Homo sapiens: one gene and its partners. The protein of the gene in region 2 purifies or fractionates together with the protein of the main gene of each other region. This does not show direct contact. Each region holds a gene or a part of one and is shown on either strand. Other genes may lie near its edges. The genes, in order: SLC9A7, MRC2 and TSPAN5.

The links.
Region 1: the proteins of MRC2 (region 2) and SLC9A7 fractionate together in Homo sapiens (co-fractionation; one large-scale study listed by BioGRID). This does not show direct contact.
Region 3: the proteins of MRC2 (region 2) and TSPAN5 purify together in Homo sapiens (co-immunoprecipitation; one large-scale study listed by IntAct). This does not show direct contact.

Annotation. Positions count from the first base shown.
Region 1 is NC_000023.11:46,682,546-46,686,197, forward strand, and holds part of SLC9A7 (sodium/hydrogen exchanger 7), read right to left. Parts: intron 1-3,652. UniProt on the Homo sapiens protein: Golgi Na(+), K(+)/(H+) antiporter. Mediates the electoneutral influx of Na(+) or K(+) in exchange for H(+). May contribute to the regulation of Golgi apparatus volume and pH.
Region 2 is NC_000017.11:62,634,029-62,637,680, reverse strand, and holds part of MRC2 (C-type mannose receptor 2 precursor), read right to left. Parts: intron 1-3,652. UniProt on the Homo sapiens protein: May play a role as endocytotic lectin receptor displaying calcium-dependent lectin activity. Internalizes glycosylated ligands from the extracellular space for release in an endosomal compartment via clathrin-mediated endocytosis.
Region 3 is NC_000004.12:98,480,486-98,484,137, forward strand, and holds part of TSPAN5 (tetraspanin-5), read right to left. Parts: intron 1,691-3,652; coding exon 1,520-1,690; intron 1-1,519. UniProt on the Homo sapiens protein: Part of TspanC8 subgroup, composed of 6 members that interact with the transmembrane metalloprotease ADAM10.

The DNA of each region.
Region 1 (3,652 bases), on a different chromosome or scaffold from region 2:
GGAAAAAAACTCATCAGGCCTGAGGAAGGATAGAGAAAGTGTGGAAATAATGGCATAGTTGACTTTCAACAACTAAGAAATGCAGCAGTAATCTTAGAAACTGGGCATGGGGTATGTATTTTAGGAGAAACTGCATGGGCCTTCAGGATTGAAAGGGTTAAGCATCCATCTATTCTGGTCCGATTTAAGTTGCTCGGCCACCAGGAGGACAAGGTGGGACAGTACCTTCAGTGGTATTATGACACTGTGAGCACTTTTTTGTTTTTTGAGTGGAGTCTCGCTCTCTCACCCAGGCTGGAGTGCAGTGGCGTGATCTGGGCTCACTGCAACCTCCGCTTCCCAGGTTCAAGCAATTCTCCTGCCTCAGCCTCCCAAGTAGCTGGGACTACAGGCACCCACCACTACACCCGGCTAATTTTTTTTTTTTTTTTTTTTTTGTATTTTTAGTAGAGACAAGGTTTCACTATGTTGGCCAGGCTGGTCTCGAACTCCTGACCTCAAGTGATCTGCTGGCTTCAGCTTCCCAAAGTGCTGGGATTACAGGTGTGAGCCACCACATCCAGCCAGCCCTGTGACCACTTTTAACACCTGAGCATGTCTCATTTCTCAGGCTTCTAGTGGAGGAAGATGGGATGACAAGCAGCAAAGATTTTTCTGGCCAGGACAGCACAAAGCAGAACTGCTGAGCTCTTTCATTTCACTCAGCAGCATCCCTCAAGCCAGTCCTGTTGCCATGTGCCAGCAAGGACCAGCCCACTGGAATTTCCAGTTGCTATAAATGTAACTTGCTTTGCCACACATCAGAGGAAAGGGGAGAAAAAAGAAATTCTTTTGCTTAGGTCATTTGAAACACTGGTATCATGGAGAAGGTAATTACACCCCTTGGGAAGTGAAACACTGCAGTGTACATTTGAGGAGTCAGGATTCAGGGGCTGGAGAGCTGGCTTCTTGGGGCTGTAGCTATGAGATGGCTAAGATCATCAGCTACAAGTATGTAAGTCTCATACCCTTCTTAGTAGGGCTCTCCCATTAGGAAAAATAAAAACAGCAAGATCATGTATAAGCATTCAATTCTGTGAATAAGGAAGGAGTGTGGCTCCCTGGACCTGAACACGAGTCAGACATGCCCAAGTAAAAGTGAGTGAAAGATTAAAAAACAAAAACAAAAAACCAGCCATAAATCACTATCAGACACTTTCTATAATTCTCTAGAAGGAAAATTTCAGACTTCTCTCTAAATTCAGTTCTTTGCTGGCAATATTAAAAGACAGAATGATATATTTGCTTCCTCATCTCATTTTGCCATTAATGGAGAAAGTTGCTGAGAAAAAGAACGATGTTTACTGTCTTCCATGTGTAATGTTCTATAATGTCTCTTATCACCAAGATATATAAGAACTCACAAGACATTGTTGAATAGCAAATAAAATATAAAATCTAGAAAAATATAGTTCTTTGAGCCAAAATCTGCATCTGTGTTGTGTTATTATAATTATTATAGACCCATATTAACAGATACTTGCAGTTTGTTGACTTGTAATAAAACAACTTGATTTTTTTTACAACTTAAAAATGAGTTTCTTAATAATCTCAATCTGACCAGATACGAAACAATTTGAAAACCTTTAAAGGCATATAAGAAAAACCAGACCTTTTATTTTATTTTATTTGTTTTTTGAGACAGAGTCTCACTTTGTCACCCAGGCTGGAGTGCAGTGGTGCAATCTCGGCTTGCTGCAACCTCCGCCTCCCAGGTTCAAGCAATTCTCCTGCCTCAGCCTCCCGAGTAGCTGGGACTACAGGCATGCGCTATCACACCCAGCTAATTTTTGTATTTTTAGTAGAGACGGGGTTTCACCATGTTGGCTAGGCTGGTCTCGAACTATTGACCTCTGGTGATCCACCCACCTCGGCCTCCCAAAGTGCTGGGATTACAGGCGTGAGCCACCATGCCTGGCCCCAGACCTTTTAAAAAACATATTTAAAAAAACATATTTATCATTACCAAAAAGAGATGTCTGTAGGGAAAAGTAATGAAAGCTCCATAACTCAGATAGTGCTAGCTGTCTGGTAAATGGGCCAAAAGCAGTCACTTAAGGTCTTCAGAACCAATCTTTTGTTCAGGTCTTATTGCTGGAATTTATATTCATTTATTCCTGTAGGATGACAAACCAGATGACACTAGAAATGGTTGGCTGGCATTTACTCTGTCCTGCTCTGCTCAGCCTTGGCAACGGACTTCCTAGCTGTCAGTCTCTTTGCCATCTTGTGGTTCAGGGTTTTCTGGGTGTCTGTGCTGGTAACTGAAGTTGGGGGGTGCCTACAATGACATGGCTGCTGGCCTTGGGTGTTCATTACTGTTCTAGGTGAGGAGGGGCCCTGGAGATTCGTGGTCTGTAACCCCAATACGTAATCTGTCTCACTGACCTACCTCTTCTCCTTCACCCTGGTTGTCACCACCCTCCATCACTTGTCTCTGCACAGGAGGGTTAGAACACTCTGGTCAAGAATCATAGGGTCTCTGCAAGGGAGGAGGCATCTTCTGTGTGCTGTAAGGCCTGACGTTTAAGGGAACTCTCCAATCCTTCTTTTCCCCACTCTCATTGTTCTGGTAATTGTGCTGGTGACCGTGTGGAAGACCCCCATGATGCAGATAACATCTATAATGGCTTCAGTCTACTGCATCTGTACTGCCTGGCACTGGAACTCCACCAGGGCCTGCAATCTTTGCTGCCTGTGTACCGTTTTCTCCTTCAACATCGAACTCCACAGCTTCTCCATCCCCTGTACTGCCAGGGTGTTTCCTGGGGGTTATTCTTCTTTATGACAATCTGGCATACAAATACATCTCACCCAGTGTCATTCCTGTGGACGAAACCATATATATTTCTTACACTGAACCATCTTACTGTTCCCAAACTTTCACTGGGATAACCTTCTTGTCCTGTTTGCAGGCTGCCACTCCCTCTGCCTCTGCCCATGGTGTCATGCCAAGTGTCTCAGCCTCACTGCTCATGTTTGCGGTCACAGTAATGGTGACTGGGGCCAGCTGTGGCAGCAGTGGCCCCTTTGCAGGTGTGATGGTAATGAGATTGGTGGCAGTGGAGCTGTTCAGGGCTCTGGGGGGCTCTCTCTCCACTCTAGATGGAACTCTGTGATGCTTTTTAGTCTTATTTCACTCCCTGGTTAGACAGTTATTTTCTGACGAAGTTTTACATGGCAAAGACGACTCTAGCCCTTCAACACTCATCATAATACAGGATGATCTGCAGCATCTGGAGGCAGCTATTTGGAACATGATTTAACTTAAATTGTCATCAGGAAGCCAAAACAAGTCATTTACAGACTATCTTTCTCCTAAAAATCAGAACCTGCTTCATGTAACTCATTGTTTCTTGACTTTTCTAACCTCATTATTAGCAGAGCTAATGGAAAGACTGAAGCATACTAGCAAAGGTCCTCATGAATACTACTCTAACAAGAGAGGGTTTATATTTGTAGACAAATTCCTCAATTAGAGGAAACATTCTTCAACTCTCTTCCAGTAATCATCACTATCATATTTACAATCATCACCAGATGACGAATATTGCTTTTTAAAGTTGTAAAACCTTTTCTTCTCTACCCTGGGCCCAATGCGCTCATATTAAAG
Region 2 (3,652 bases):
GCTCCTGGCAGGGAAAAAAAGCCTGAGCAGAGTCCGGGTTGGGCAGTACTGGGAGCTATGGGAACGGTAAGGAGCTCAGCTTGACCTGCACAAGCACTGAGAAGGCCGGGAATTCTTTCTTTTTCTTTTCTTTTTTTTTTTTTTTGAGACACAGTCTTCCTCTTTTACCCAGGCTGGAGTGCAATGGCGTGATCTCAGCTCACTGCAACCTCCACCTCCAGGGTTCAAGTGATTCTCCTGCCTCAGCCTCCCGAGCTGCTGGGATTACAGGCATGTGCCACCATGCCCAGCTAATTTTTGTATTTTCAGGAGAGACAGGGTTTCACCATGTTGGCCAGACTAGTCTCGAACCCCTGACCTCAAGTGATCCACCTGCCTCAGCCTCCCAAAGTGCTGGGATTACAGGCATGCACCATCACACATGGCTGATTTTTGTATTTTTAGTAGAGACAGGGTTTCACTATTTTGTATTTTTGTATTTTTAGTAGAGACGGGGGTTTTACCTGGCCAGGCTGGTCTTGAACTCCTGACTTCAGGTGATCCGCCTGCCTCGGCCTCCCAAAGTGCTGGGATTACAGGCATGAGTCACCGAGCCTAGCAGAAATTCTAAATTCAGAAAGTTTACATCGATTCAAGCTTCCCCTTAGCAGCGCTAACCTGGCAGCAATGCCAGCTCTGGACTGAGGGTGGAAGGGAAGACCCTAAGGGAGGAAACTGTGGATGTAAATTACACCACAAAGGCCGGGGGAAGAGAGTTTTCAAAAGTGTCCATTGGTCCAGGTGCAGTGGTTTGTGCCTGTAATCCCAGCACTTTGGGAGGCCAAGGCAGAAGAATCGCATGAGCCCAGAAGTTCAAAGCCAGGCCTGGGCAACATAGTGAGACTCTGTCTTTAGTTAAAAAACAACGACAGGCCAGGTGCTGTGACTCACGCCTGTAATCGCAGCACTTGGGAGGCTGAGGCGGGCGGATCACGAGGTCAGGAGGTTGAGACCATCCTGGCTAACACGGTGAAACCCCGTCTCTACTAAAAATTCAAAAACAAAATTAGCCAGGCGTGGTGGTGAGTGCCTGTAATCCCAGCTACTCGGGAGGCTGAGGTGGGAGAATGGCGTGAACCTGGGAGGTGGAGCTTGCAGTGAGCCGAGATCCCGCCGCTGCACTCCAGCCTGGGCGACAGAGCGAGACTCCGTCTCAAAAAAAAAAAAAAAAAAAAAAAAATCAGAAGATTACCCAATGAACTACTACTAATCTTCATTGGGGAATCTTGGTTGGGAAGATTACCCACAGAATCTACCAGTGGTAGACTGTGGCCTGTGCTAGTGTGTAATCAGTGTAGTGTAAGGGAGTGGACTTCACATTTTTTTGCACTTACTTGTGTATGGTTTGAATGTTTTCCACTGAGCATGCATTTTTACTTTTTTTTTTTTTTGCGACAGGGTCTCACTCTGTTGCCCAGGTTGTGCAGTGGTGCAATCATAGCTCACTGCAGCCTCCAACTCCTGGGCTCAAGTAATCCTCCTGCCTCAGCCTCCTGAGTAGCTGAGACTACAGGCACGCACCACTGTGCCCAGCTAATTTAAAAAAAAAAAAATTGGCCGGGCGCGGTGGCTCACGCCTGTAATCCTAGCACTTTGGGAGGCCGAGGCAGGTGGATCACGAGGTCAGGAGATTGAGACCATCCTGGCTAACACAGTGAAACCCTGTCTCTACTAAAAACACAAAAAATTAGCCGGGCGTGGTGGCGGGCGCCTGTAGTCCCAGCTACTCGGGAGGCTGAGGCAGGAGAATTGCGTGAACCGGGGAGGCAGAGCTTGCAGTGAGTGGAGATCGTGCCACTGCACTCCAGCCTGGGCAACAGAGCGAGACTCCGTCTCAGAAAAAAAAAAAAAAATTCTAGACACAGGGTCTTGTTATGTTGCCCCAGCTGGTCTCAAACTCCTGGCCTCAAGCAGTCTCTCCTCCCGTGGCCTCCAAACGCACTGGAGTAACAGGCATGAGCCACCATGCCTGGCCCATTCTTACAATTGAGGCCAATGAACAGCATGCATGCTGCAAGGTGAGGCCTAAGAAAGGTCACTTAATTTAGTAATTAGGGAGCCTCATCAGTATGACCCTTGGGAGGCAGTCCCTCAGACAGTAGGCTAAAGGCAACTAGAGGCAAAAAGGGGAGAGGTATGCCCAACCATCCCAGTGTTCCCTAGTCTGTCTTGGTTTTATTCCAGAGTCCCAGGAAGCTCCTTATCCTTCCCTAAATGAAGGTTAAATAGAGAAGTGTAAGGATGAAGAGGAAGGTGATAAAGAGGATGGTGATAAATTGAGGGGCTTTAGGGGGTAGGACCATTGAGGGTGGGATTTTTTTTCTTTGGTATTTCTTTTACTTTCAGAAAAACTATGATTACTTTTTGGCACTTACAGTAGTTAGCAAAGTGTCACGAAGAAGTAATGCCTCTGATTGAGGCTATTTCTGAAAAAAAAAAAAAAAAAAAAAGAGAAAAATAGCAATGAAGTAACAGGTTCAGACCTGCTTCAATTTAAAAAAAAAACAATGGGGCTGGGCATGGTGGTGCACTTCTGTAATCCCAGCACTTTGGGAGGCCAAGGCGGGTGGATCGCCTGAGGTCAGGAGTTCAAGACCCGTCTGGCCAACATGGTAAAACCCCGTCTCCACTAAAACTACAAAAATTAGCTGGGCGTGGTGGCACGTGCCTGTAGTCCCAGCTACTTGGGAAGCTGAGGCAAGAGAATCGCCTGAACTCGGAAGGTGGAAGTTGTGGTGAGCCAAGATTGTGCCACTGCACTCCAGCCTGGGTGACAGAGGGAGACTCCGTCCTAAAAAAAAAAAAAAAAAAGTTGTATCAGAGGTGTTCAAACCAGAGCAACTCCATCTTTAAAAGGGGCTGGGTAAAACGAGGCTGGGAACTCCTGGGCTGCGTTCCCAAGAGGTTAGGCATTCTAAGCCACAGGATGACACCGGAGGTCAACACAAGACACAGGTCACAAAGACCTTGCTGAAAAAACAGCACGCAGTATAGAAGCCACCCAAATCCCACCAAAACTAAAAGGTGACAAAAGTGATCTCTGGGCTAGGCGTGGTGGCTCACGCCTGTAATCCCAGCACTTTGGGAGGCTGAGGCAGGCAGATCATGAGGTCAGGAGTTCAAGACCAGCCTGGTCAACATGGTAAAATCCCATCTCTACTAAAAGTACAAACATTAGCCACGTGTAGTGGCACATGCCTACAGTCCCAGCTACTTGGGAGGCTGAGGCAGGAGAATTGCTTGAACCTGGGAGGCAGAGGTTGCAGTGAGCCAAGACCACGCCATCGCACTTCAGCCTGGGCAACAGAGTGAGACTCCATCTCAAAAAAAAAAAATGACTTGTGGTCATTCTCACTGCCCATTTTTTTATACACTAATTATAACGCATTGGCATGCTAAAAGATACTCCTATCAGCGCCACGACAGTTTACAAATGTCATGGCAACGTCAAGAAATTACCTTATAGGGTCTAAAAAGGGAAGACTCCCTCAGTTCCGGGAATTGCCCACCCCTTTCCCAGAAAACTCATGAATAATCCACCCCTTGTTTAGCATATCATCAAGAAGTAACAATTGTATAAGCAGCTGAGCCGTCAGTGCTACTCCTCTGCCTA
Region 3 (3,652 bases), on a different chromosome or scaffold from region 2:
CCTCACTTCCCTGGGATGCACTTTCTCTACTTCTCTGAGTTAAATAAATATCAAGTCTCAACCATTTGAAGACCTTCCGGACCAACAGCTACTTCTAAACATTACATTCCATGATGCAAAAAGAAAATCACATGAAACTGTAGTATTTCCGTTTAAAGCACACAGCATCCCAAGACAACATGGTCCTTCCAGGGCTTGGGTCATGCATTTCGAGGTGTGTCCACAAAGCTCCATCAATGTGTCATGCAAACTAGTCAGGAATAATGCCAGGAAAGGGATTATTAGGGAGCCTGCACCCATTAGGACCTAATAAAACAGTGAAGTCGGCTGAGGACATGAATCAGGGCTTAATTTCCCACTTAAGGGGCAGCTTACTCCAGGACGAAATGTTGCTGCCACTGAACAAAACCACATAACCCTGCTCAGTCCTGAGTGCCTAAGGAAGGGGATGGCCTCCCTCATAAAGAGTGTCAACATGGCTGCTGCCTCCCTTCATCACAGGCAGACAACTATCCAACCCCAAGAAGGCTACCGTTCACTGGGCTTCTGCTTGCCCTCCGGTCCTGCCATATACATGAATGCCACAGACACCGCTGTCCAAGTCCAAGCTCAGCCTACCCGACTTTTCAGTGCAGGTATATAAAGACCTGCAAGTTTGTAGGACCCTAACACCTTAGCCTAATATAAAAACATGTATGTCTCATTAGTGTCATAATATCCCTGTGAGTTAGACAGTAGCTAGTATTATTTCCATTTTGCTATTGGGGAAATAGGTCAAGGTCCTGTGAGCCCAGGGTCCCTTATCAGATTTTGGCACTAGACCTGTGTCTTTTGGTCCCTTGCATTCTGAGTGAAACGGGACATCTGCTGCTTTGCTGGCACTGAAAGAGCCATTTCACAGGCATGCTCAGAGACGGGAGGGAGTGGCCTGGACTCCAATGCTCAGGGATAGGAGAGAGTGGCCCGGATTCCACTGCACAGATTCTTCACTTGTTAGAAGCCACTAGGACTTAGGAGTTTCTAAGCTTTTGCTTTTAACTGCATGTGCAATAATAATATTTGGATAGGCACATTTTAGGAACTTTGTGGCAAATTATTCTGTTGATAAGTAGATTATTATGAGCTGTGAAATATCAAGGATTACCAAAAAAGGGGGCAAGGGATAAGAAAGAATCCATATTTAATAACCAAAGAAAACTTTAAACCCGGAGCAAAACAATGTTCCTCAAATGCAAATAGGAAAGGACAGCCATGATTATAACGTTTTGCTCAAGCATTTTCTTCTTTGTTCCTCTAACTTAACAGAAGTTGAAACAAGTGAAAATAGGAAATTTCCATTTAGAATACAAATCCTGTAAGTCACAGAGCAAGTCGGAAAATAATAAACAAACAAACAAACACCCATGCAGAATAGTCAGGTAGTTTCCAGCTGGCAGATGCAGAAACCAGGAGGGATGAAATTCACTGGGGTCATCGTTCAGAGAACTTTCAACTTGAAAACAAACCACTTTAAACTTACATATTCCTGGGTGAAGTCTATGAGGTTTTGCAAATCAATGTCATCCCGATATGCTCTGATGTTGTTGTTTATAAAGAAATACAGCTGGTCTTTGATCCAGTCTTTGAAAACAAATGCTAGAACTCCGGCAGTGAGCTCCAGGAAGAAAATAATTCCCAGGAACACAGAAAACTAAGATAAAAGACACATACACAGAGAACAGTTATAAGGGCTATTTTGATCATATATAGCTAAATGGTTCCTCTCTAAACAGGTTTGTAATTACATTGGATTGTTACACATCTCCAAAGCAGATAATCTTCAGTTTCTGCTGATTCATTAATAGAATATTACACTCCAAGAAAGGACTTTTAAAAATCATTTTATAATCACATTTTAGGGTCTCTAGTGTTCCATTTGATAATTAACCAACAAAGCCCATAAGCAAACATGGATAATAAGGATTTCTCATTAGACCCACATTAAGGCCTAATTAATTTCTCATGATTAATGTACTGCCAGATGCTTGTAACAATGACCTGCCCCTATCTCTAGTAAGCTTCTGTAACTTGAAAGATAGATTATTCCAATATTTTAAGATCGCCTGTCACTTGTTACTGTGGCCTTGATTCTCTATGCAATATATTCCTTTTATGGATTCAGACACCATTTTAATTCTCTTTTGCACCTGCTATACAGGGTAAAATAACAGATGTGTTCATCTTAGATGAAGGGGTCAAAGAGGAAGTAGTGGGGTGGGCAGTGACCGCGAAATGAAAGTTATTTCCCATCATAAAAACAAAATGAAACCCCTGAGTTGAGGGCTTTCCTGGGAATGCTAGCTGTGCTTGCCTTCCTCTAGGAAGCATGGGCCCCAGCAACATTTTAAGTGACATCAAAATGCAGCCAAGGGGAGACTTCCGCTTAATGTAGACAACAGGGGTTTTAAAAGAGGGGCTCAAGACCATGAGGCAACGTGGTAACTGCCCGTAACTCTGGAGAAATTCCCCTTCCATCTAGAAGACTCAGAAGAGTCTCAGCTTAGTCATATCGACTTACTGCTCACGCCCACTGTTTTTTCCACCTCCTACCATCCTGTATTCTTAACCTTCTCAAACTTTGTTGTTAAAATAGATTATGAGAAATGAGCTGTGAAGGACCAGAGGGTACAGTGCGGGTAAATTTCTGGTGACAACAGCAGAGAGGGTGACATGGGCCACAACTGCTGGGCAGAGGTCCTGAAGGCCACATGCAGAAGAACAGTGAGCAGCTGAGGAGGCAGGGGGTGCTCAGGTGGTCTGCGGTTCTATCTTCAGCAAGCAGACAAGGAGCTGCCAGCCAAGAGAAAAATGTATTGGGGAGGGGTGCAAAGGAAACAGCAGTTACTCATTAAAAGAACAAAAGACAAACAATGTTTATTCATTCAGCAAACATCTACTGAATGACCCACAATGAGTCAGGCCCTGAGGTAGGTGGGCTTTGCAGAAACAAGGATGAGTAAGAACAAGGGGTATCCTTGCCTTCGAAGATGTCCCAGTCTTATGTGATTAGGGAGGCTAGGCAGGGAGTGGGTATCTGCAGACATTAGATGTCTGTAGATCTGGCAGTATTTGTCTAGGGTGCCAAGTACTGCTCTGTGAGGGTGGGCACGGGAGGAGGAGTGGAAGGTGGAAATAAGTGTTTGGCAAAGTTTTTGGACTCCCAGGTTAAGGCCCCAATTCTAGACCCTCCAGCTCAGCCCTTCAGGTTTCCCTAGAGTTCCTGATTATATATCCTTCAGGAATTCGCCAGAAATGGAATTTAAACAGTTCTTAATTATCATCAGTGATGCCAATAATTTCAATTTAAACTTTCCCCAATCTAGAAAAATGAACAGAAAAAATATCACACCACTTCTGCTCAATGCCTACCCTACAGTGTAAATAACGCCCTGCCCTGTATTAGGCCCCACCTTAAGCATGTAAATATGAATTATGAATTATCACAGTACAGAAATGACAAAATTATAGCTAGCATGCATGAGCATACACAGGAAACACCAAGTCAGGGAAAGATTTTAATTCAGTTTTTGTTCTCACCTCCATAAAAGTTAAGTGCATTTTCCAGTTCCCCTGGTAAATTTTCTCTTCATGTTACATATTATACATACCAAAA